Linked DNA regions of Homo sapiens. The protein of the gene in region 1 interacts with the protein of each later gene in a pairwise test. Each region holds a gene or a part of one and is shown in the gene's direction. Other genes may lie near its edges.

What was found.
Region 2: the proteins of BMP2K (region 1) and NAA15 interact in a two-hybrid assay, tested with the Homo sapiens proteins (one large-scale study listed by IntAct).
Region 3: the proteins of BMP2K (region 1) and ST6GAL1 interact in a two-hybrid assay, tested with the Homo sapiens proteins (one large-scale study listed by IntAct).
Region 4: the proteins of BMP2K (region 1) and SIGLEC7 interact in a two-hybrid assay, tested with the Homo sapiens proteins (one large-scale study listed by IntAct).
Region 5: the proteins of BMP2K (region 1) and STXBP6 interact in a two-hybrid assay, tested with the Homo sapiens proteins (one large-scale study listed by IntAct).
Region 6: the proteins of BMP2K (region 1) and BMP3 interact in a two-hybrid assay, tested with the Homo sapiens proteins (one large-scale study listed by IntAct).

What each region holds. Positions count from the first base shown.
Region 1 is NC_000004.12:78,870,350-78,873,849, forward strand, and holds part of BMP2K (BMP-2-inducible protein kinase), read left to right. Parts: intron 1-433; coding exon 434-711; intron 712-1,500; coding exon 1,501-1,599; intron 1,600-2,264; coding exon 2,265-2,449; intron 2,450-3,500. UniProt on the Homo sapiens protein: May be involved in osteoblast differentiation.
Region 2 is NC_000004.12:139,385,005-139,388,504, forward strand, and holds part of NAA15 (N-alpha-acetyltransferase 15, NatA auxiliary subunit), read left to right. Parts: intron 1-1,128; coding exon 1,129-1,226; intron 1,227-2,879; coding exon 2,880-3,080; 3' UTR 3,081-3,500. UniProt on the Homo sapiens protein: Auxillary subunit of N-terminal acetyltransferase complexes which display alpha (N-terminal) acetyltransferase (NAT) activity. The NAT activity may be important for vascular, hematopoietic and neuronal growth and development.
Region 3 is NC_000003.12:187,066,526-187,070,025, forward strand, and holds part of ST6GAL1 (beta-galactoside alpha-2,6-sialyltransferase 1), read left to right. Parts: intron 1-3,500. UniProt on the Homo sapiens protein: Transfers sialic acid from CMP-sialic acid to galactose-containing acceptor substrates. In B lymphocytes, generates neuraminidase-sensitive lymphocyte cell-surface differentiation antigens, such as CDw75, HB-6 and CD76.
Region 4 is NC_000019.10:51,141,068-51,145,100, forward strand, and holds the start of SIGLEC7 (sialic acid-binding Ig-like lectin 7 isoform 1 precursor), read left to right. Parts: upstream 1-1,233; 5' UTR 1,234-1,302; coding exon 1,303-1,735; intron 1,736-3,338; coding exon 3,339-3,617; intron 3,618-3,844; coding exon 3,845-3,892; intron 3,893-4,033. UniProt on the Homo sapiens protein: Putative adhesion molecule that mediates sialic-acid dependent binding to cells. Preferentially binds to alpha-2,3- and alpha-2,6-linked sialic acid.
Region 5 is NC_000014.9:25,043,648-25,047,147, reverse strand, and holds part of STXBP6 (syntaxin-binding protein 6), read left to right. Parts: intron 1-2,207; exon of another isoform or gene 2,208-2,228; intron 2,229-3,500. UniProt on the Homo sapiens protein: Forms non-fusogenic complexes with SNAP25 and STX1A and may thereby modulate the formation of functional SNARE complexes and exocytosis.
Region 6 is NC_000004.12:81,054,708-81,058,127, forward strand, and holds the end of BMP3 (bone morphogenetic protein 3 preproprotein), read left to right. Parts: 3' UTR 1-2,920; downstream 2,921-3,420. UniProt on the Homo sapiens protein: Growth factor of the TGF-beta superfamily that plays an essential role in developmental process by inducing and patterning early skeletal formation and by negatively regulating bone density.

The sequences.
Region 1 (3,500 bases):
GAAGTGCTAGATGAAGGAATAAGGAAGAGAGGTTTGAGCTAAACTTTAAAGAATAAGAATTTCACTAGGTGGAAAGTGGCATTCTAGACAGAGAATTATATTGGTACTAATACATACTCATGATAGTACATGATATTGTTGAGCAGTGTAGAACAAACTAACATGGATGTTGTGTTCATGGAGAGCCGAAGTATGAAACATGAAGTGTTTCTAAGATGTTGACTTGTTCAGAGTTGTAGACGACAAAATTAAGCTTCTTCGGTACTTACAATTAAAGTAAATCCCTATAAACTCTATGCATATGGAAGTTTTTGTGTTATAAATAAGGATATAAATGCCTTAGTTAAATTATTATTGAAATGAGCATGTTGAAATCCAGCTTTTTAATTGAAATCATTAGTATGTTAATGTAAGTGTTTGGACCTGTCTTTAGGGGCACTAAGACCTGGAAATGGCCCTGAAATTTTATTGGGTCAGGGACCTCCTCAGCAGCCGCCACAGCAGCATAGAGTACTCCAGCAACTACAGCAGGGAGATTGGAGATTACAGCAACTCCATTTACAGCATCGTCATCCTCACCAGCAGCAGCAGCAGCAGCAGCAGCAACAGCAACAGCAGCAGCAGCAACAGCAACAGCAGCAGCAGCAGCAGCAGCAGCAGCACCACCACCACCACCACCACCACCTACTTCAAGATGCTTATATGCAGCAGGTAATTTTTTTGTTTCTTTAGATATGGAAGTAGTGTGAAATTGATGCAGCAAATTGAATATCAGTGAATTCCTTTTTGTATCATGGGCACCTTGAACTCTAGATTTGAGTAAACACTTTCCCCAATTTTCTAATTATGAAAGAATACGTATTTAATTTGCAATCAGTGAAATACTTAAGAATACTGTAAAATAGGTTGCATTGTGGCCTTATGAAGAAAAGAATGTTCATCTGAAACATTTAGTATTCACAAATAAGCACTGCAGTTTATAATGAATATTATCTGAGGTTACGTTTTGAGTTCACAGACTAATAATGCTATTGTTGGAAAGGTGATATTAGGCTTTTCAGAAGTAACATTGTCTTAGATTTTTGTCACCCTCCTGGTTTTGGTTGATAGATCCAGAGTGGAGGGTAGTAAGTAGGTGGTACCATGGGATGCCCAGAAGACACCACTGAAGGGGAGATTTAGTGTAATGGGGCTTGGTTAGAAGTCACTCAGGTGTCTTTATCTTCTAGGAAAAGGTAGTAAATGTGTTTTGGTAGCTTTCTTCTAAACATCCTTAAATTGTGCTAAAAATGGTTTTAATTGAATCTAATTGTTGATAATTTTGAAACCAGTTCTGATAAGCATATTTATTAATAAATTATAGTAATTTAGAGTATAGCTATTTTGTATTGATGTTTGGACTACTGATTTCTCAAATCATTATGGTAAGATCAATACTTTAAAAAAGGGCTCTGACACAAAAAAGGCATAACATTTATTAATTTGATTTTCTCGTTGTAGTATCAACATGCAACACAGCAGCAACAGATGCTTCAACAACAATTTTTAATGCATTCGGTATATCAACCACAACCTTCTGCATCACAGTATCCTACAATGGTAACTTAAATAATTTCTAGAGATTTCTCTGAGTATACATTATGGTGTTGGAATTCACAGTATGAATCATATTATTCAGAATTTAGTAATTCAAAATCAAGTAAGTTAATTGACATGTATTTTATCAAAGCCAGTCATATATTCTCAAGCAGCTTTAAATTGCACTGAACTATGGCACCTGAATATGGCACATAGTAATTGACCGATAACGTACTTCTCTTATGTCATTATATAAGGGAAATGATGTCTTACCTATAGTCTTTCGTCACATGTCTCTTTCATTCAGCACATATCTATTGAGTAAAAAAATGAAACCCAAAGGGAGAGTATATTTTCTTCAGAGAATAATTTGACCTTTTTTTTTTTTTTTTTTTTTTTTTTAACAGCAACCACTATATTAGTGACTTTAAGCTACTCTTTTTCTTAAAATACTTAAAAGAGGATTTTTGATTCTGGCCAAGTGAGCCTACCTTTACAACTTTTTAAAAAGATTTATTTCATCTTGCTGTAGTTTTCTAGTAATAGAGCTGCTTCTGTAGATGATTGTTTTTTACGTTTCTGATTTTGTCACCAATGTGAAAGGAAGGAACATAGTAAATAGATGCAGTGCTGACAGTGCTTTAGGACTGGAGCATTGTTTTGTATAATATCATTTCTTTTTTCAGATGCCGCAGTATCAGCAGGCTTTCTTTCAACAGCAGATGCTAGCTCAACATCAGCCGTCTCAACAACAGGCATCACCTGAATATCTTACCTCCCCTCAAGAGTTCTCACCAGCCTTAGTTTCCTACACTTCATCACTTCCAGCTCAGGTTGGAACCATAATGGACTCCTCCTATAGTGCCAATAGGCAAGTATTTTTCCAGTGAAAGCAAAGGAAATTATTGTGGAAGTGGAAGTCATCGTTGAATGGTCGGTCATTAAGTTCTCTTAAATTAGTTTAGAATTTATCTTTCTGTAGAGCCACCCATTCTCTCTTCCTAGTCCTGTCTTCTGGTCCCTTGGCATCCCCATCCTTCCGTTTCCTCAGTTAATTCTGCTAACTGCTATTTGTAGGTAAGGTGTAGCAACATCTAACAGCATTTAGGGCTAAGGATATTATTGGCTTGTATGTAAAGGCATTTTTGGTAATGTAAGTATAAACAACACCCTAACAAGTGACTTCAGCAGTTAAAAAAAAATCCTTGTAGACTTTCTCTATTTACATGTTATTACCTTTGATTAATTTTACTGTTTACTCATAAAGGTTGTATAATTTAATTTAAATAGGTATAAACATTTTTACATATATGTATTTTAAGATGATATATAGTATACATACTGTTACCGTAACATAGTTGGTAATAGTATATTTTGGCTATTGAGACATATTGGTTAGTAGCGTTATAAATTAAATAACTTTGGTACAAAATTTCTTAAACTTATACAAAATGGCACGTGCTTTAGCATCTTGTAACTAAGAATCATCATCAATGCCTCCTAATGTTTTTAGATACCTAGGAGGTAGGAGCTGTTAGACTTCTGTTACATGAACACTGAAGTTCTCATACAATGCTGTTTAAGGATTTGAAACATTAGCTGAGAAAAGGTGTCTATAAGCTTTGGCTCAGAGTTGAGCAGGAGAAACAGCAGCATCAGTAGCATACTTGTACACTGCATCTCAAAAGAGAGCTAAAGTATGCAGTTTGCTATAGAATGCCTCCCAACCTCTGTGTGTGTGTGTGTGTGTGTGTGTGTGTGTGTGTGTGTGTGTGTGTATGCATGCATGCATGTGTGTGCACATGTGCAAGAGACAGATGGTGGGGCGGGTATGGTAGAGAGGGAGACAGAAACGAATGGATTTCTTGAACTACTTTTCTAAAGTAAGAATTGGGGTGGATGAATTAGGACAATTTTGTCTA
Region 2 (3,500 bases), about 61 Mb from region 1:
TTCTAAAACAACTTCAGTAATTTTAATGAATCAACAATAATATAAGGTACATGTTTTTAGAATGGAAGAGGCAGTGTGTATATGTTACATTGTGATCGTATGAAAACAGGCAGCTTAAATAAGCTTCCTAAGCTGGGCACAGTGGCACATACCGGTAGTCCCAGCTACTCAGGATGCTGAGGCAGAAGGATCACTTGAGCCCAGGAATTTGAGGCCAGTCTGGGCAACATAATGATACCCTGTTTCAAATCAAAACAAAACCAAACATATATATATATAATATATATATATATATAATATATATTATATATATATGCGCTTCCTATACATTTTTTAATTTCTTACGGCAAAATAATCACTACAAATCAAAGTCAGTGGTCTCTTCTGGTTCAGCATTGGCATTACAAAGAAGCAGGTGTAACTAAACTTAAATGTATATCATAAAATGAAGGTAGAGCTTTCTTTTATTTCTTTTTTCATCATTGGGCTCTTAAAATTCACTCAGATAGGACCATCGTCTTCCATTTCTCATTCTTATGTAGGTATCAGAGTTGACAGTGCTAAACACCTGAAATTATCTTCACAGTTTGTGAGAAATCTAAGTCAAGGGTCTGTGCCAATGAGCCAAAATCTGACCTTTATGGGACCATGTGGGTAGTACTTTTCAAATACTTGGCTTAAGCCCAGCAGCTTTGTATACCTTTGTGGAATCCTGAATTCAGCATTTTGGCTCACACTGTTGAGATAGGATAGTCCCCCAACCTCCACATTATTCTGCTTATTTCAGAAAGAAGACTATCATGGTCCTACCACAAAAATACAAGTATTATTAGAATGCTTGTGTTTCTTCATAGTCTCCTTTACTGTGCATGTGTTGCATATACATTCTATTTTATTGGGTAGATATATGTGGTATACCTCTATTGTTCTCTTTCTTTGGATGGTTAAGCTAATCCCCTTAGCATTATTATTTTTTGAATAACAGTATCTCAAGTAGCTGTTCCCATTCTTCTAATAAAGTGCCACACCCTCTGCATATATATCTTGTTTGCCTTTTATATTTAAATAAGTAGAGGATAAGATGTTGGTTTTACCTTGAAATAAATTTCCTATTTCCCTCTCATTTAGCTGCCAAAATGGTATATTACTTAGATCCTTCTAGTCAGAAGCGAGCTATAGAGTTGGCAACAACACTTGATGAATCTCTCACTAACAGAAACCTCCAGGTAAAGAGTTTTTCATAATCTCTCTGTAAGAATACTTAACTACTTTTTTCACCAAGAGAAATAATTGGGTATTTATACACACTGTTTTTTAAATCATTATGAATCTGGGTCAGAAACAACTTATCTTAAAATTTATTTAGGCTGCTTGGCATTCAGTAACTAGTTTCACATCTGTAGCTTGGAATAACTTTTTAAGAAATATGTTTTAATAAAATCATATACATTCCATCGTCATTTTTGGATTTCATTTCATATCTCTGCATTTCTGAGCAAGCAGTGGTCTCAGTGGAGATTCTAACATGTTTAAAATGTATTTTGGCTAGGCGTTTTGGTTCATGGCCTATATTCCCAGCACTTTGGCAGGCCAAAGTGGGCAGATCACTGCAGCTCATGAGTTCGAGACAAGCCAGGGCAACATAGTGAGACCCCATCTCTTAAAAAAAAAAATCAGTCAGATGTGGTGGCACTGTATTCCCAGCTACTTGGGGGACTGAGATATGAGGAACACTTGAGCCTGAAAGGTTGGAGCTGCAGTGGGCTGTGATTGTGACGCTGTACTCCAGTATGGACAACAGGGCAAGACCCTATCTCAAAATAAAGAAAGATGTATTTACTAGGGGCTAAATAAAAATACTTATTTTGTAACTTGTAATACAATATGAGATTAAGTTAAATAAAAATTAATATGGGTGTATTGTAAAATACTGTAGTTTAAACTAGAAACAAAGGGATAGCTACCTCATGTTATAATTTGCCAGATAAACATGTATATGCTGAAAGACAGTTATTAATAAATATATTCATTTAATAGCAAATGAAGGCAGTATCTTTAAGAAAGAAAAATTAGACTTGTTTGTTTTACCATTTAGATTAGAACCTGGATTTAAAGTTCTAATCTAGGTCCTTTGTAACCTGGATTTAAGTTGCTTTGTAACCTGGCAAAGTTTGTAGGGATTTTTGCATGTGGAAACTAAGTAGCTTTTCTAAGTGAAAATATTAAGAAAGCAAACATGAGAAATGCAAATCAACATGAATCAACAAAAAAGATAAGAAGCAGACTTACTTAGGGGTTTGGTTGAAAGAATTACTCATTTTCATGAACTAATTTTTCTTGCAAATAATCACTTCATGTTTGAGACACTCTTTTCTGCTTAGTTATTGGATGTGCCTTAAGTTGCTCTTTAATTTGAACACAATGTTGAATACAGTGTTTGAGTTTGCTGGCTGGCTCTAAGCTTTCAAAAATATTAGAAGGCATATGTGCAGTAATTGGTATTGGCATTGTAAATCTAGATGTTTATACCCAGGGCCAGGCTAGGCTGAGGTAACATTGCTGCCTAAGGTCATACGCTTGCTGAGAGTGAGTGGCTTTTTAAATGTAGCACTCCATATACCTTGCTTGCCTCACCATAGTCCCATTCCTGTTTCTGCAGTCATCCCTGTTTAGCCTTTTGTATAAATCCTGCAATTCTGGAGAAATGGTTAAATTAGGCCTTGAAGAACATTCTAATAGAATGCATATGCAGGAGTAAATAGCTAAATATGTGTATTTATTTCTTATTTTAGAAATCTCTTGCTGTTGAAATGTCTAATAAATTCCCAGTAAGAACCTTTTTTTGACCAGTTACAACATGACTTTTTTTCTTTCCTTAGACATGTATGGAGGTATTGGAAGCCTTGTATGATGGTAGCCTAGGAGACTGTAAAGAAGCTGCTGAAATTTATAGAGCAAATTGTCATAAGCTTTTCCCTTATGCTTTGGCTTTCATGCCTCCTGGATATGAAGAGGATATGAAGATCACAGTTAATGGAGATAGTTCTGCAGAAGCTGAAGAACTGGCCAATGAAATTTGAACATCACTAAACAAGCAAATGGAATGACTTTGGACCATATCTAGTATATAATATTTTTGTCACGCACCTGCTGCATTGCTCTAACTTACACAGAATGAGAGGAGTAAATGTTCTTGCCTTCAAATAGTGTTTTACGTTTTTTATCCTGCTGAAAAAGTATATATAAAATATCTAACATTACAGGATAGAGGTTCAGTTTCTTAAAAAATTAAAGCTGCTAAAATTGAGTGGTTAAAAAAGATACCTTATCCTATTCCTCCCCACCCACCCATGTTTTTAAACTAATTTATATAAAATCTGGAGGCTGTTACAGCTAACAAAGCAGGTGTGTGGCAGAAATATTACTTTAAATTTGTCTTGTGAGATTTTACTATATCTCAGACAGCATAAATGCTGTTTTAGCACTGGATTCTTTCACTG
Region 3 (3,500 bases), on another chromosome or scaffold:
CAGAGGGAAAACAGATTTGAGAAGAAAAAAGTCCAAAATATGCACAGTGGTAATATCTGAAGATGTGCGTGCGTGCGTGTGTGTGTGTGTGTGTGTGTGTGTGTGTTTCTATTCTTGCATTTTCTAACTGTCCCCAGTGAGTATTTGTTACTTTCTAACTGAGAAGGTTACTTTAAACAGTGTCTTGAGCAGCAGCACTCCATGCCCTGGTGTAGCCTTTTCCTGGCAGATGTTCCCCAGGGCTCTGCTGCTCTGCCAATGACTTATTCTCAGCATGAACTCCTCCCCTGCCCCCTAAGAGGATCTCCAAACCCAGGTCACACTCCCCCTGCAGGTAAGTACAGGCGTTTGAGAACAGCTTTATTCTTCCAGGAACAGCTGGTCCCCTCAGCAGGGCCTTACAAGGTGGTTATGTCTAAATAAGGCACCTGAGGCCAGGAGATGTGACATGGTCCATCTAATACCATGGAGTGAGTTAGACACAGAGCAGGACTGGAACCCATGCTTCCAATTCCCCATCCAGTTTTAAGGCAATCTTCTTTTCTTTCTTTCTTTCTTTTTTTTTTTTTTTTTTTTTTTTTTGGAGACAGAGTCTCTGTCACCCAGGCTGGAGTGCAGTGGTGCGATCTTGGCTCACTGCAACCTCTGCCTCCGGGGTTCAAGCGATTCTCCTGCCTCAGCCTTCTGAGTAGCTGAGATTTCAGGTGCCCGCCACCACGCCTGGCTAATTTTTGTATTTTTAGTAGAGACGAGGTTTTACTATGTTGGCCAGGGTGATCTCGAACTCCTGACCTCAAGTGATCTGCCCACCTCAGCTTCCCAAAGTGCTGGGATTACAGGTGTGAGCCACTGCACCTGGCAAGGCAACCTTTTTTTTTTTTTTTTTTTTTGGTAGAAAATCTTTGAACTTCATATAGATGGTGTTAATGTGGGTGAGTTCAGAGCCATGTGTAAAGTTCCAGGAGGGGAGTGCTTGCTGGCTTCTCCCTTATCCCTCAACCAGATCCCAGCCCCAGCCACTTTCTGTTTCTCTTCTCTGGATAAAACTATCATTCATCTTCACCTGTTTCTATTTTCATGGATTACTGTCTCATTCATCTCAAGTAGCTCAAGTGAATGGCTGTTTTTCCATTGGATACAGGAAGACTGAGGGTGACCTGACCCTCATGGTGTGCTTGCTTATTTGAATGTCTGATGGTTTTATGGGTGTAGTCCTGCTGGAGCAGAAAGAATATCTGTTAGGAGCCTGCCTCTGGGCTCTGGTTCTAACTGTGCCACAAACTCATCGTAGCCTTAGACAATTCTCTTGTCTCTCTGGGCCTCAGTTTACCCATCTGGAAAATGATGGGTCTGAATTTAATACCTTGAGTATCATCCAGCTGTGACATACTACAACTCAGGCAAGAAGCAAATTCTCCTGACACTCCATACTCCTATCCAGTGTTCTCTGACGTCCTTCCCCAAGAGCTGTGGTACCCTACCCTGCCCACATTATGTGAGGCATTATAGCACATAGGTTAGAAGTGTGGTCTCTGGGCCGGGTGTGGTGGCTCATGCCTGTAATCCCAACACTTTGGGAGGCCGAGGCAGGTGGATCACGAGGTCAGGAGATCAAGACCATCCTGGCTAACACAGTGAAACCCCATCTCTACTAAAAATACAAAAAATTAGCTGGGTGTGGTGGCACATGTCTGTCGTACCAGCTACTTGGGAGGCTGAGGCAGGAGAATCACTTGAACCTGGGTGGCGGAGGTTGCAGTGAGCCAAGATCGTGCCACTGCACTCCAGCCTGGGCAACAGAGCGAGACTCCATCTCAAAAAAAAAAAAAAAAAAGAAGTGTGGTCTCTGGAGCTAGACCTAAGAATCCAATTCAGACTCTCTTACTTACTGACTGTGTAATTTGGACAAGTTACTTAGCATTTAGCATCTCTATTTCTTTAATCATAAAATGAACATATTAACACTTACTTCCTAGGGCTGTTGTGAAGATAAACTGAGTTGAGGTATGACAGTACCTAGCATGTAGTAAGCATCATTAAATGGTGTCTGTTGTTTTCACATATTGTAAAGAAGAAAGCTTCGTGCATCTCTTGGAATTTCTGAGGACGGTGAAGCCACAGCTGGGAAAGTCTCAGGGAGCCAGGAGTTGCTGGCCTCCTGCTTTGCATACTCAAAATTGCTGGAAAGGGGCTATAGCAGGGGGAGACATTTTTTAAAAATCCCAGTTATTGCTATTCCTCATGAGTATGTATATATCACCTGGCATCAGTACTCTGCATAGAAAGAAGCATAGCTAAAGAAAAGACACTTTGCTTTTAATATAACAGCTGTTTTCAGGGGAATAGGGTGGATGAGGATAGGGAGTACTGGCCCTCTGTCCTCAGGCCTCCCTGTCACCAGCTCAGTCACGTCTATCTTACAAATCCCCATCTAGCAGGAAGCCTGCTCTGCCCTTGGACTATAGACCTGAAGGGCTGTTGTTAAGTTACAACGTTCCCAGTGGAAGGAGGACAGTACTTAAAAGTTACAAGATGTGGGTTCTGTTCTTAGTTCTTATGGCCTGTCAGCCAGGGAACTCCTGGCCAGTAGTCTCATCCTTGAACTTCTTCTTTTTTTTTTTTTTTCTCAAGACGGAGTCTCGCTCTGTCGCCAGGCTAGAGTGCAGTGGCACGATCTTGGCTCACTGCAACCTCTGCCTCCTGAGTTCAAGCTATTCGCCTGCCTCAGCCTTCCAAGTAGCTGGGATTACAGGTGCTTGCCACCACGCCTGGCTAATTTTTGTATTTTTGGTAGAGACAGGGTTTCGCCATGTTGGCCAGGCTGGTCTTGAACTCCTGACCTCAAGTGAGCCCAGCCCTCATCCTTGAACTTCAAATTTCCACCCCACCTTACTCCCACAGGCATATACCAGTTGTTCCTTTTTCTCTGTTCTTATGCAGGAAATGGCCTGAGGTCCAGGAGTCCCCTTGGTCCCCTTTTTCCCTCACTCTCAACATTCAATTAGTCTTCACATCTACAGCCGACAATTGTAACTTCTTTTCTTTACTCCATTATTTCTTAGGTGACAACAGGAGCTTCTTTGTGGTCTTCTTTTTTCTAAAAACACTAATTCAGAACTCTAGCATGTTTAGATCTTCCTTACTTAAAACCCTTTCCTGGTCCCCATAACCTACTGAAGAAATCCTAAGCTCCCTGGCTTGGCCTCTGTCTACATTTCTCTGATCTCTTCCAGCTCTTTCTCTGTATCCTAGCCATACTGAACTACTTGCAATTCCCAAACAGGGTACACACTGTACTAGTTGTTCCTGCAAGAGACAGGAACACACATCCCCCCACACTAGCTTAACAAAACAAAAAATGCATTTCTCTCTCATGCAAAAGAAGTCCAAAAGTAGACATTCCAAACTTAATATGGTGTTCCAGTGTCAGAATCCAAGTTCTTTCTACTTTGTGGGTTTGCCGTTCTCAGCATATGACTTCCACTTTATGGTCCAAAATG
Region 4 (4,033 bases), on another chromosome or scaffold:
GACAGTTCTTTTGTGTTCTAGTTCTTCAAGGGTGCTTATTTTGTGTGAATCACTGAGTTGGTTTTTAGGGGACACTTTTATGTACATGTCTTGTGTTTCTCCCCGCTCAAAAAAAACTGTTTCAAGAAAAGCTGGCCTGGATCTAAGGGGGCTGCAGCTTGCAGGATTTTTCCCACTTCCTCCCAGCCCAGTCACACAGTTTAAAATAATCTTCTGTTGAAGTCAGGTGCGTGTTTCTTCTCTCAGAAAATCGCGCCCATCACTGAGGGTGGACGCCCCGGGGCTGGTGTCTTTGCTCCACGTCTCCTGTTCACCTGAACCCCTAGGAGCAGTTCCTGCAGGAGCAAAGCCCCAGGGCCAGCAGACCCCTCACACTCTGCACTAACCAGGCCTCATGAGATAGCAGTGGTGAAGGGAAATGTCCTTGTGCTCAGAGAGCTGTGAGGATGGGAATAGTGTCTGCTCTTTTCATATTGATCCTTTCCCTTATGACTTTCCTGTCTACCAAGCCCCACAATACAACAATCACAGCCTCAGCTTCCCCGGCCTCCTGCAGGCTGGGCTCCCCTCCGTGTCCTTGGCGTGTATCAACAGGCGCAATCCTCACCTTCACAGCCCCATGTCCGTCTGCTCGGTCCTCCTGAGACTGAACCCCCGACCTAGGGGAGAGTGACCCCACCCTGCCTGTGCCCCCCACTGAAGCTCCTGTCATGGGGAGCTCAAACGTCAGGAGACTCAGTGTCTCCCCACCACACAGTGACTCCTTGGGGACAGTGTCCGGCTCTGCTGTGTTGACCTCATTGTGCAGAAAGGGGGTGCCCACCTCGTGGCTGCTGAGGGAGGGATGAGAGGCTGCCTGTTCACCCCACCTGCACCCCTGTCTCTCATGGCCCCGAGTCCCACTTCTGAGCTACGCAGACATCCACAGCCTGTGACTCAGGGGTCTGGGCAGATGGGAGTTATTTTCACCCTGCAGAAAATATCACCTAAAGGGAAAGGCATTGAGAGGGAGGCAGGAGGTGGGGTGGGCCCTGCATGGGGTGGGAATCTGGGTGAGTCTGTCTCCCGCTCTGGCCTCAGGGACCCAGGAGTGAATGTCGGGTGGTGGACGGTGGATCTCCCAGGGCTGACCCAGCCCTGACAGTGTCTGTGTGTGAAGTTCTTCTTCTAAGGAGGTCACTGTTTTGACCTCACCACCGACTTCCTGTAGGGCCTCTTCTAAGTCTTGAGCCCGCAGTTCCTGAGAGAAGAACCCTGAGGAACAGACGTTCCCTCGCGGCCCTGGCACCTCCAACCCCAGATATGCTGCTGCTGCTGCTGCTGCCCCTGCTCTGGGGGAGGGAGAGGGTGGAAGGACAGAAGAGTAACCGGAAGGATTACTCGCTGACGATGCAGAGTTCCGTGACCGTGCAAGAGGGCATGTGTGTCCATGTGCGCTGCTCCTTCTCCTACCCAGTGGACAGCCAGACTGACTCTGACCCAGTTCATGGCTACTGGTTCCGGGCAGGGAATGATATAAGCTGGAAGGCTCCAGTGGCCACAAACAACCCAGCTTGGGCAGTGCAGGAGGAAACTCGGGACCGATTCCACCTCCTTGGGGACCCACAGACCAAAAATTGCACCCTGAGCATCAGAGATGCCAGAATGAGTGATGCGGGGAGATACTTCTTTCGTATGGAGAAAGGAAATATAAAATGGAATTATAAATATGACCAGCTCTCTGTGAACGTGACAGGTAAGGCACGGGCTCCAAGAGAGGCCAAAGGCAAATGTGATGAGGGCTTTAGGGCACGGCTGAGACGGGACACATGTCCTGGGAGGGGGCCGGGGGTGATGGACTCAGGAGAGGAGCTGGACCAGAGCCTGAGCTTCCCCAGGACCGCACCTTGGATGCCCCTCCTGATCCTGCAGGCCCCTCCCCTCACCAGCCCTGACCCACAGGCCTGACATCCTCATCCTGCCTCTGACGCTGGCATTGTGGCATGTGGGGCCTTATGACTCCTTGTTTTGGGGCCTGTCCTAGGCATGGCCGGGGTTTAGCACCATCCCAGGCCTCTCCCCACCAGATGCCAGAAGCACCCACTCCACCCATGCAGTGAGACAATAACAATTATCTCCACACATTGTTAAACGTCCTGGGGGGTTAAGTCCTCCCCAGTTGAGAGCCTTAGGTCTACACAACCCCGTGACTCTCTCAGGCCAGGCCAGGGAGGAAGCACTTCCTGGCGCAAACCAAGGGCAGCAGAGGCACCTGAGCCTGGACAGGGAGACTCAGCACACGGCCCCTCCATCTCTCATGCCCTGAGGTCCTCGGAGATCCACATTTAGATGCTCAAAAGACAGGAGGGACCTCCACGATGGTCCAGAGGCCGGGAGGGCAGGACCTACGTGTCTGGTGCAGGCCCTGGTGCTCCAGGGAAGCCCGGAGGTAGGAGGTGGGACACGGTCTCTTCTCCTCCCTGGGTGGGTCTCTAGGGTCTCTGAGCTTCAGGGTTTCCTTCACTCTGTGCAGAGGGAACCAGTTCCTATAGCATGTGGGTTTGTAGTTTCTCTTTCGTGCTGGGTTGAGGTCTCCAGCTCCTCTCCAGCCCCTCTCCAGCCCCCTGTGGGTCCCACAGCCCTGCCCCTCCTCTCCCTCCCACTTCTCTGCTCACACAAGGAGCCCAGGAACCCTCTGTCTCAGAGATGCTGCTGCCTCTCTTGTGGGCAAATGAAGAGAGGGACAGTCGGGGCTGGGCTGAGCCTCATTTCCCCACAGCGTCCCAGGCCCCACTGTCAAGATACAGGCTGGAGGTGCTGGAGTTGGTGATGGTGCAGGAGGGCTAGTGCGTCTCTGTGCCCTGCAGTGTCCTTTAACCCTATTACAACTGAACTGACTCTAGCCCTGTCCATGGATGCTGGTTTAAGAAAGGGATCAATATACAATGGAATAATCCAGTGGCCACAAACATCCCAAATGGAAAAGTGCAGGAGACACGGGGCCGATTCCACCTCCTTGGGGACCTGAAGACCAACAACTGCTCCCTGAGCATCAGAGATGCCAGGAAGGGGGATTTGAGGAACTACTACTTCCAGGTGGAGAGAGGACAGATAAGATGGAATTACAAAACGAAGCAGCTCTCTGTGAATGTGACAGATAAGGCACAGGCTCCAGGAGACACCACAGGGAAAGGTCATGGGGGTGGCAGCGAAAGCCTGGGATGGGGCCCCTGCCCTGGGAGAGGGCTGAGGGTGAAGCGAGTTGGGCTCAGGGCAGAAGCTGAACCAGAGCCTGAGCTTCCCCCAGGGCTGTACCATGGATCCTCTGTCCTGATCCTGAGTCCCCCTCTCTTCACCAGCCTTGACCCACAGGCCCAACATCCTTATCCCCGGTACCCTGGAGTCTGGCTGCTTCCAGAATCTGACCTGCTCTGTGCCCTGGGCCTGTGAGCAGGGGACGCCCCCTATGATCTCCTGGATGGGGACCTCTGTGTCCCCCCTGCACCCCTCCACCACCCGCTCCTCAGTGCTCACCCTCATCCCACAGCCCCAGCACCACGGCACCAGCCTCACCTGTCAGGTGACCTTGCCTGGGGCCGGCGTGACCACGAACAGGACCATCCAACTCAATGTGTCCTGTGAGTGCTGAGCCAGGACGCCCTGGTCCCTGATGAGGGGGGGACGTCCCTGAGGGCAGAGGATGGGGTCAGGGCTCGACACTGGGTGCTGGGTCCCAGAATCTGGGCTGGTTGTGGGATCAGGAGGACGCTGGCTCCGCCTTCCCCATTTATGCAGCTCCTGGGGAGACAGGGCCAGTGTCCCCAGCCCTCACAGTGATGCAGGTCTCCATGTCTTTCTGTCCCAGACCCTCCTCAGAACTTGACTGTGACTGTCTTCCAAGGAGAAGGCACAGGTAGGATGGAGCCCCCTCCCTGGGGCTGGGGGAGCAGGGCCTTCAGCTCAGGGCAGGGCCAGGTCCCTCCTCATCCTGGACTCACCCTGGTGATATGAGACTCCCTTGTAGTTGAACCCAGGCCTCCTCCCCATCCTTAGC
Region 5 (3,500 bases), on another chromosome or scaffold:
AGGAGGTTACGTACAGTTCTGACAGCTTGAACCTTAAGGTTGGAGGACAGAATAGATCACCTAGGGAACAAGTTTAAGAAGAATTTGCAGTGGTGTCTTTTCCGAATGGACAGCTTACCCAGGCCCTGGAAGGAGCATGAAGTACACCCCACGACAAATGTCCCATGGTGGTTAGACCTGGCAAAGCCCTTTCATTCCTTCTGGAGAATGGTAGTGGCATTGGCAGTGGCTGAGACCCTCTCTTCGTCTCTAAGAGGGTAGAAGGCTGGCTTTCAGGGGCAGCTGATCAGTATTAGTGTGGTGTCCTGTGTAACCTAGCTTGTAATGAAGCACTATTGGGACCTAACCCAATCTTAAGCTCTTTTCCTTTTCCCCCACGCCATAGTCCTGTGCTGTGAGCTCACCATGACTTCCTATGACCTAGACTGTGGCCTTGAATTTTGACTGCTTTGCATCAGAGAGGCTGTGGGAGCCTGCTTGAGTCAGGAGGGTTCCTGCAATAACATCCTAAGGAAGAAATAAAGTTTACATAATGTAGTGCCCAAATCAATTAGGTATAAGAGGAGGTCAGTCAGTGCCTTAACTAGTTCTTGTGTTGCTAGGCCAAATGGGATCCCAGCTCACTGTCATGCTTTATCTCAGCTGTCCATTTGTGCTTTGTTTTAGTTTTAAAATGATTAGCACTAGAGAAACCTATCAGTAAATCAGAAACCTTTAAAAAACTCAAGTGTACACTTAGTGTTTTAGTAGATAAAACTTTCAGGCCCAAACCTGTCTTCCTGACAGCAGTCAGCACTTGGTGAAGGAACAGCCTTCTGGTTGTCACTCTTAAGATTCATTAGTTAATTTCAATGGTTTTTCCCACTTAGTATAAGTAGGGAACATTTCTATTTTAAAATTTCTTCCCATAACCTGATGTTTATATTTTGGGTGTTACCCCTGCTTTGAGGGCAGCCTCTTATCACTGTTGTTCACTTTTCTCAGTACATGGTATCTTTGCTCCCTTTAATAAATCTGTTGTGAGACGGTCATTATGACACTTTATTTCTTTTTGGTCATTAGGACTGTTATTACTGAGTCACAGAGAGTCAGGGCCCATTCCTAGAGCATTATTCTCTATGTTCCTAGAGGGTGCTTTTAAACTAAAACACTAGTTATACTGCACTAGCTCATTTCTAAGATACATTCTTTTTCTGATTTCAGAAGCCCAGATGGATCTTAAAAATTATGAACACATTTAGGCCAGGTGCAGTGGCTCACACCTGTAATCCCAGCGCTTTGGGAGGCTGAGGCGGGTGGATCACCTGAGGTCAGGAGTTCAAGAGCAGCCTGACCAACATGATGAAAACCTGTCTCTACTAAAAATACAAAAACAAATTAGCTGGATGTGGTGGTGGGCACCTGTAATACCAGCTACTCGGGAGGCTGAGGCAAGAGAATTGCTTGAATCTGGGAGACGAAGGTTGCAGTGAGCCGAGATCGTGCCATTGCACTCCAGCCTGGGCAACAAGAGTGAATCTCCATCTCAAAAAAAAAAAAAAAGAAAAGAAAAAAAAAGTATGAACGCATTTAATGTGCAGTTTTTTTTTCTTCTGTAACCTAGTATGTTAGTGTAGTGACTATCAATTGATGACATCCTCAAACAAAGCAAGGTTAGTTCCTTATTCTGGTAGAAAATATGGTTTCTACTCAATGCTGTCCAGCTGATTGAATTGCTGAGCAGTTAGCTCAGCAGTTCCGAGAATATGTTGGGTAAAGTGCTGTTGGGGTGGGTATTAATCAGTTTGCTCTTATAAAGGGCAAATCCATTTGGGAAGCACTGCCTATTATTTTTTTTTCCTCTTGTAGAGATTCTCAACATGGGCATCATTATATCAAAGACTATGAGAAGTACTATAGTTAACTATATCAACGACAAAAACTTGGTTACATTTATTCAAGTCAGCGTTTCCCAGAATACAGAATTTTCTGAGGTTATATATGTATCTTTTAGGACTCCATTACTGAGTTAGCACAAACCACAATTTTAATATGTGATTTAATATTGTGGGTGGGATGGTTTCACCTAGTATATCCCGAAAATATAGGGACATTCATTAAGTATGGCTATTAATTAATTAACTCTATAAGTGGTTACTTATTTTTTATTTCAGAGTAGAGAAGAACATTTTAAGCTGTAGTGGCTAAGAAAGTCTCCACGAAGGAGCTGGACTGTGATAATATAAATGGTGGGTAGCACTCTTTGATAGATAAGGGACATTTTAGGTTGGAGGGATAATGAAGCAGGAGTAAAGACTTGCATTTGTGCCTGCATATAAATAATTTTCAGAGCATACAACAAAATGGATTGTGCCCAGCACAGTGCGAGATTTACTGAATCTGTGGTGGTGGTCAAAGAACCTATTAAGCCCAGGCTTGGTTGCTCATGCCTGTAATGCCAGCAGGTCAAGGCTGCAGTGAGCCCTGATCGTGCCACTGCACTCCAGCCTGGGCAACAGAGTAATATCCTGTCCCAAAAACAAAACAAAAAGTTTTTTGATTCTGTAAATTCGTTGAAATAGCAGATGAGTTATAGAGAGGACTGGACAGCTGGTTGCAGGAGTGGAGGCGCAACACTCAGGATGAAAGCAGTCAGGGGTGCCTGGAACTGGACGGGGGCATGGAAGTGTTCCTGTGCCATTAGTCATTAGGGGGATGCAAATCAAAACCACAGTGAGATGCCACTTCACACCCACCAGGACGGCCAGGTGGAGAATGTGGAGAAATTGGAAGCTTCCTACATTAGATTGCTGGTGAATATGTAAAACCGAACAGCCACTTGGGAAAACAGTTTGGCAGTTCCTCAAAATGTTAAATATTGGCTTCCTAATGACCAATTCCCCTCCAAGATAGATACACAAGAGAACTGAAAACATGTTCATGAAAATATGAATATTCATAGCAGCCGTATTCCTTTTTTTTTTTTTTTTTTTTTTTTGAGGCAGAGTCTCATTCTGTCTCCCAGGCTGAAGTGCAGTGGCACAATTTCTCCTCACTGCAGCCTCGACCTCCCAGGCTCAAGCAATCCTCCCACCTTGGGTTCCCGAGTAGCTGGGACTACAGGCATGTGCCACCACCTCCAGTTAATTTTTTTTATTTTTGGTAGAGATAGAGTTTTACCATGTTGCCCAGGCTGATCTTGAACTCCTGGGCTCAAGCAATCCACCTGCCTTGACCTCTGGGATTACAGGCATGAGCCACTGCGCCTGGCCAGCAGCCTTATTCTTAATAGCCCTAAAGTGGAAACAACCCAAATATCCATCGGCTGCTGAATGGATAAACAAAATGTGGTACATCCATGCAAGGAAAACTATTCAAACATAGAAAGGAACAAAATGTTGATTCATGCTACAACATTGATGTACCTTGAAAACATGCTATGTGAAAGAAGCCAGATACAAATGACCATGTATTTACATGATTCCATTATGAAGTGTACGCAATAGGAAAATCCACAGTGA
Region 6 (3,420 bases), 2.2 Mb from region 1:
TAGACACTTGTTTGTCTTTGCTTTCCATTTCTATGTGTCACATACATATATGTGTCCTCTTATAACTTTAGTCTTCAAAATTATTTCAATATCCTTCTTCTCACTATATTTATTTGTGTGATGGAAATGCTTTCAGGCCGTAGATCATTGTTGGTGTTAATCTGTGGTTAATCCTCATTTTAGTTCCGTCTTATCTGATACTTAGAAATATCTCAGCCATTTTGGAGGCTGTGCAGTATCAGAAGACGTGGAGTTTGTTCTGTCTCTGCCTGTAGCTAATTATGGTGGTTCAGTCATTTAATAAATATGTTTTGAGCATCTATTTTGTGAAAGGCACTGTGTTACCTGTGTGTCTTTAGTGTCCTCACTGGTAAAATGAAGAGGCTGGCCATGAGCTGGAAGGGTTAAGTTTATAATTCCAGCTATTTCACACCCGTCTTCCTTGAAGGAATGATAGTGATAGATATAAAAACACTGTAAGTCCCTCTTTTAATAAACTAAATGAAAGAACATCCTATACTTCGCTGTTTGTAAATTAGTATGGCATTCGCTTTGGTTTAAGTGGTATTTTATTGCAAACCCATTAAAAGAATAACTCATGAAAAGAAGCTCTTTGACACCTTGGGGTACACAAATGTTGGTGTGGGTGTGTGTTAATTCTGTGAGTGAGACACACCAGTTCTAAAAAAAATGAGTGAAGTTCTGGTGCCTGAGTTACCATGCTTTCTTCTAGTTCTTACAGTAGCATAAAATTAAAGATTCAAAGTGAGATGGAGGATAAAATTACTTTTTAATACATGTTCTCAAACATTTGAAAATAAAAGTATATGATAGAAGGGGGCCAGAGTGTGGCCACCATCCTGATCGTACTGTTTTTCAATAAAGAAAACTTTTTCATTGGTAGATTTGGTGAAATTCTAAATTTAGGTTTTTTTCTAGAGCTGTATCAACCAAAACTTCTGGCAATTCCCAGTATCACTTCTTAGCCTTCTTATATCCAAATGCCTGTTTATTACCTTTCTTAATTTGAATCAATGCCTAGTTATTACAGATTGCACCCCACAATGGCCAAAAACCCACTACATAATAAAATTTACAGGTACTAACTAGTTAAGATTATATTTTAAGTAGCAATTGATATAAAATTACAACACAATGAAAGAACTTGGGTAATCTCTTAGCAATGGAAATAGGTTTTAACCAGCAGTTTTTCTGGGTGCTTTGTAACTATCATTTTACTAATGAATTGAGGATGTATTATGGTTTAAATTGGAAGAGTTTTATTCCCAAAGAATAAAGCAAGATTATCTTTCAGTAGTAGAGATTGAAGTAAATGTATTAATATTTTAATTAATACAGATTTACTAAGAGTAGTTAGAAAATTTAGTAAGTGCCTGTTTTACAAATTGTTAGGTACTAGTTTCTGTATAATTCCTACACAGAAGCTTTAGAAATCTCCTGATATTAAATTATTAAATTGGCATTCATGAAAAGAGAAGCTACAATTATAAACTCCATTTGCTAAATCATGCATAATACTCTCTCTCTCTCTTCCCCCACAAGTAATCTCTCTACCCCATGCAGTGTGCACACACACACACACACAGTCAGTTACTGAAAAAAATAATTCTTTTTCTTTTTTTTTTTAAATGGAGTTTCACTCTTGTCGCCCAGGCTGGAGTGCAGTGGCGTGATCTCGGCCCACTGCAACCTCCACCTCCCAGGTTCAAGCAGTTCTCCTGCCTCAGCCTCCTGAGTAGCTGGGATTACAGGTGTCCGCCACCATGCCTGGCTAATTTTTTTATTTGATAAAAAGAATTCTTTTTCTCAATAACTGTTCTCTTGAATTCAAATTAAGGGACTGCCAAAGTCAATTAGAATATTTTAAAAATACTTTGTTGTAACCTGTGTAAATAATATACAATTTACAGGATTTGGGATTGTAGAACTTAAACTGGAAGACTGGATTCCTCAGATCTCAGGACTATAACATTCCAGATAAATTTTTACATTCCCTTTGCTGTATATTAACTGATGATCATTTATATGTTAAGATTTTTTACCTTAATATTTCTGAATAAAACTCTTATTGCCCATTTAATATTTTCATAGGCAATCAAATGTGAGTAATACTGCTAAGAGTCTGATTTATTAAAAATATTTGTATAATTCATTCAGTTTAGTTTTTCAGTTTAGTCTTTCTGCTTTCACTTTTCTCTGTGCTAACAAGTAACTAATGTCTGGGCATTGACTTCTTATTGAATCAAAGTTGGGTTAGGCATAGCTATGCACACCTGATGTGTAAGATTAAAGAAGAGATTAAATAAGAAATCTTGGGTAAGTTGGACTTTTCTGTATAGCTCTTTTTTCCTCTGAGTTGTATTTTAATGTAGTTTATAAGTGATAAAATGATCCTTGTTTTCTAAAAGCCAGTCCTTCCCTTCAGCTTTCCACAGTTTCTGTAAATGTTTAATACTTGTACAGTCAATGGCAATTTTAAATATATATATATATATAATATATGTATATGGAAAAGGTTCAAAGATGCTTTTAATTTATTTAATGACTATTGCCTTCCTATAATAATAATTTTCATCCTTAATTATGATAATACTTTTAGCAAGAAAAATTCCTTTTTACTACAGTTTTTAGATGCAAAATGCAGTTTGGTTCTTTAGTCAAATCCACTTAGAGGGTATATTGCAGTGAAACTGTGAAGGATACTTCACTACCAATGTATAAGCTTTGTTGAATTTGTATCATTTTCTTTCAGTAATGAAAAGCTATTCATTATACAGTATGGAAATAAAAATTGCTTCATTGACCATTCATTTTTACTTATTGGGAAATACTATATTTCCAGACATTTTCAAGTGTGCTGCATTTAAAAGAGGTAATAAAGCTTAAGCATAGAGTTGAACATTTTCAAATGGTATTCTAAATGGAGCATCGTAACTTACTCTTAACATAACATGATTATCGTTGTAAAACAAGATTGAAATATACCCATCAGGAAAAATATATCTTTCAAGCTTGAGAAACTCAACTTAAATTGTTTCATATTTTCTTTTCTTTTTTAACCAAAAACTCCACATTTTATAGTTGGAGACTTTTGTTTCTTTCTGGATGTCTGACTCACTATTTTGACAATAACTTTATTTCATCTATCATTCTTACCATGTCCTGTTCTTTTAGAATGATAACTATCTAAATTTAATTAATCTTATCATTGAGATATATTCTAGCCATTTTTTGTTTAGGCCATAGTTTTTTCTTTAAGGAAAAAAAATGACCTGAAATTAAGAAATAAAATATGCTTTTATATTATTTTTATTATTTTAATCCATCTTTGTAACACTGTGTATGTTTGCATTTTGGAACTACAAGGAAATTTTAAAGATCATCTTGAACAAGTTCCTT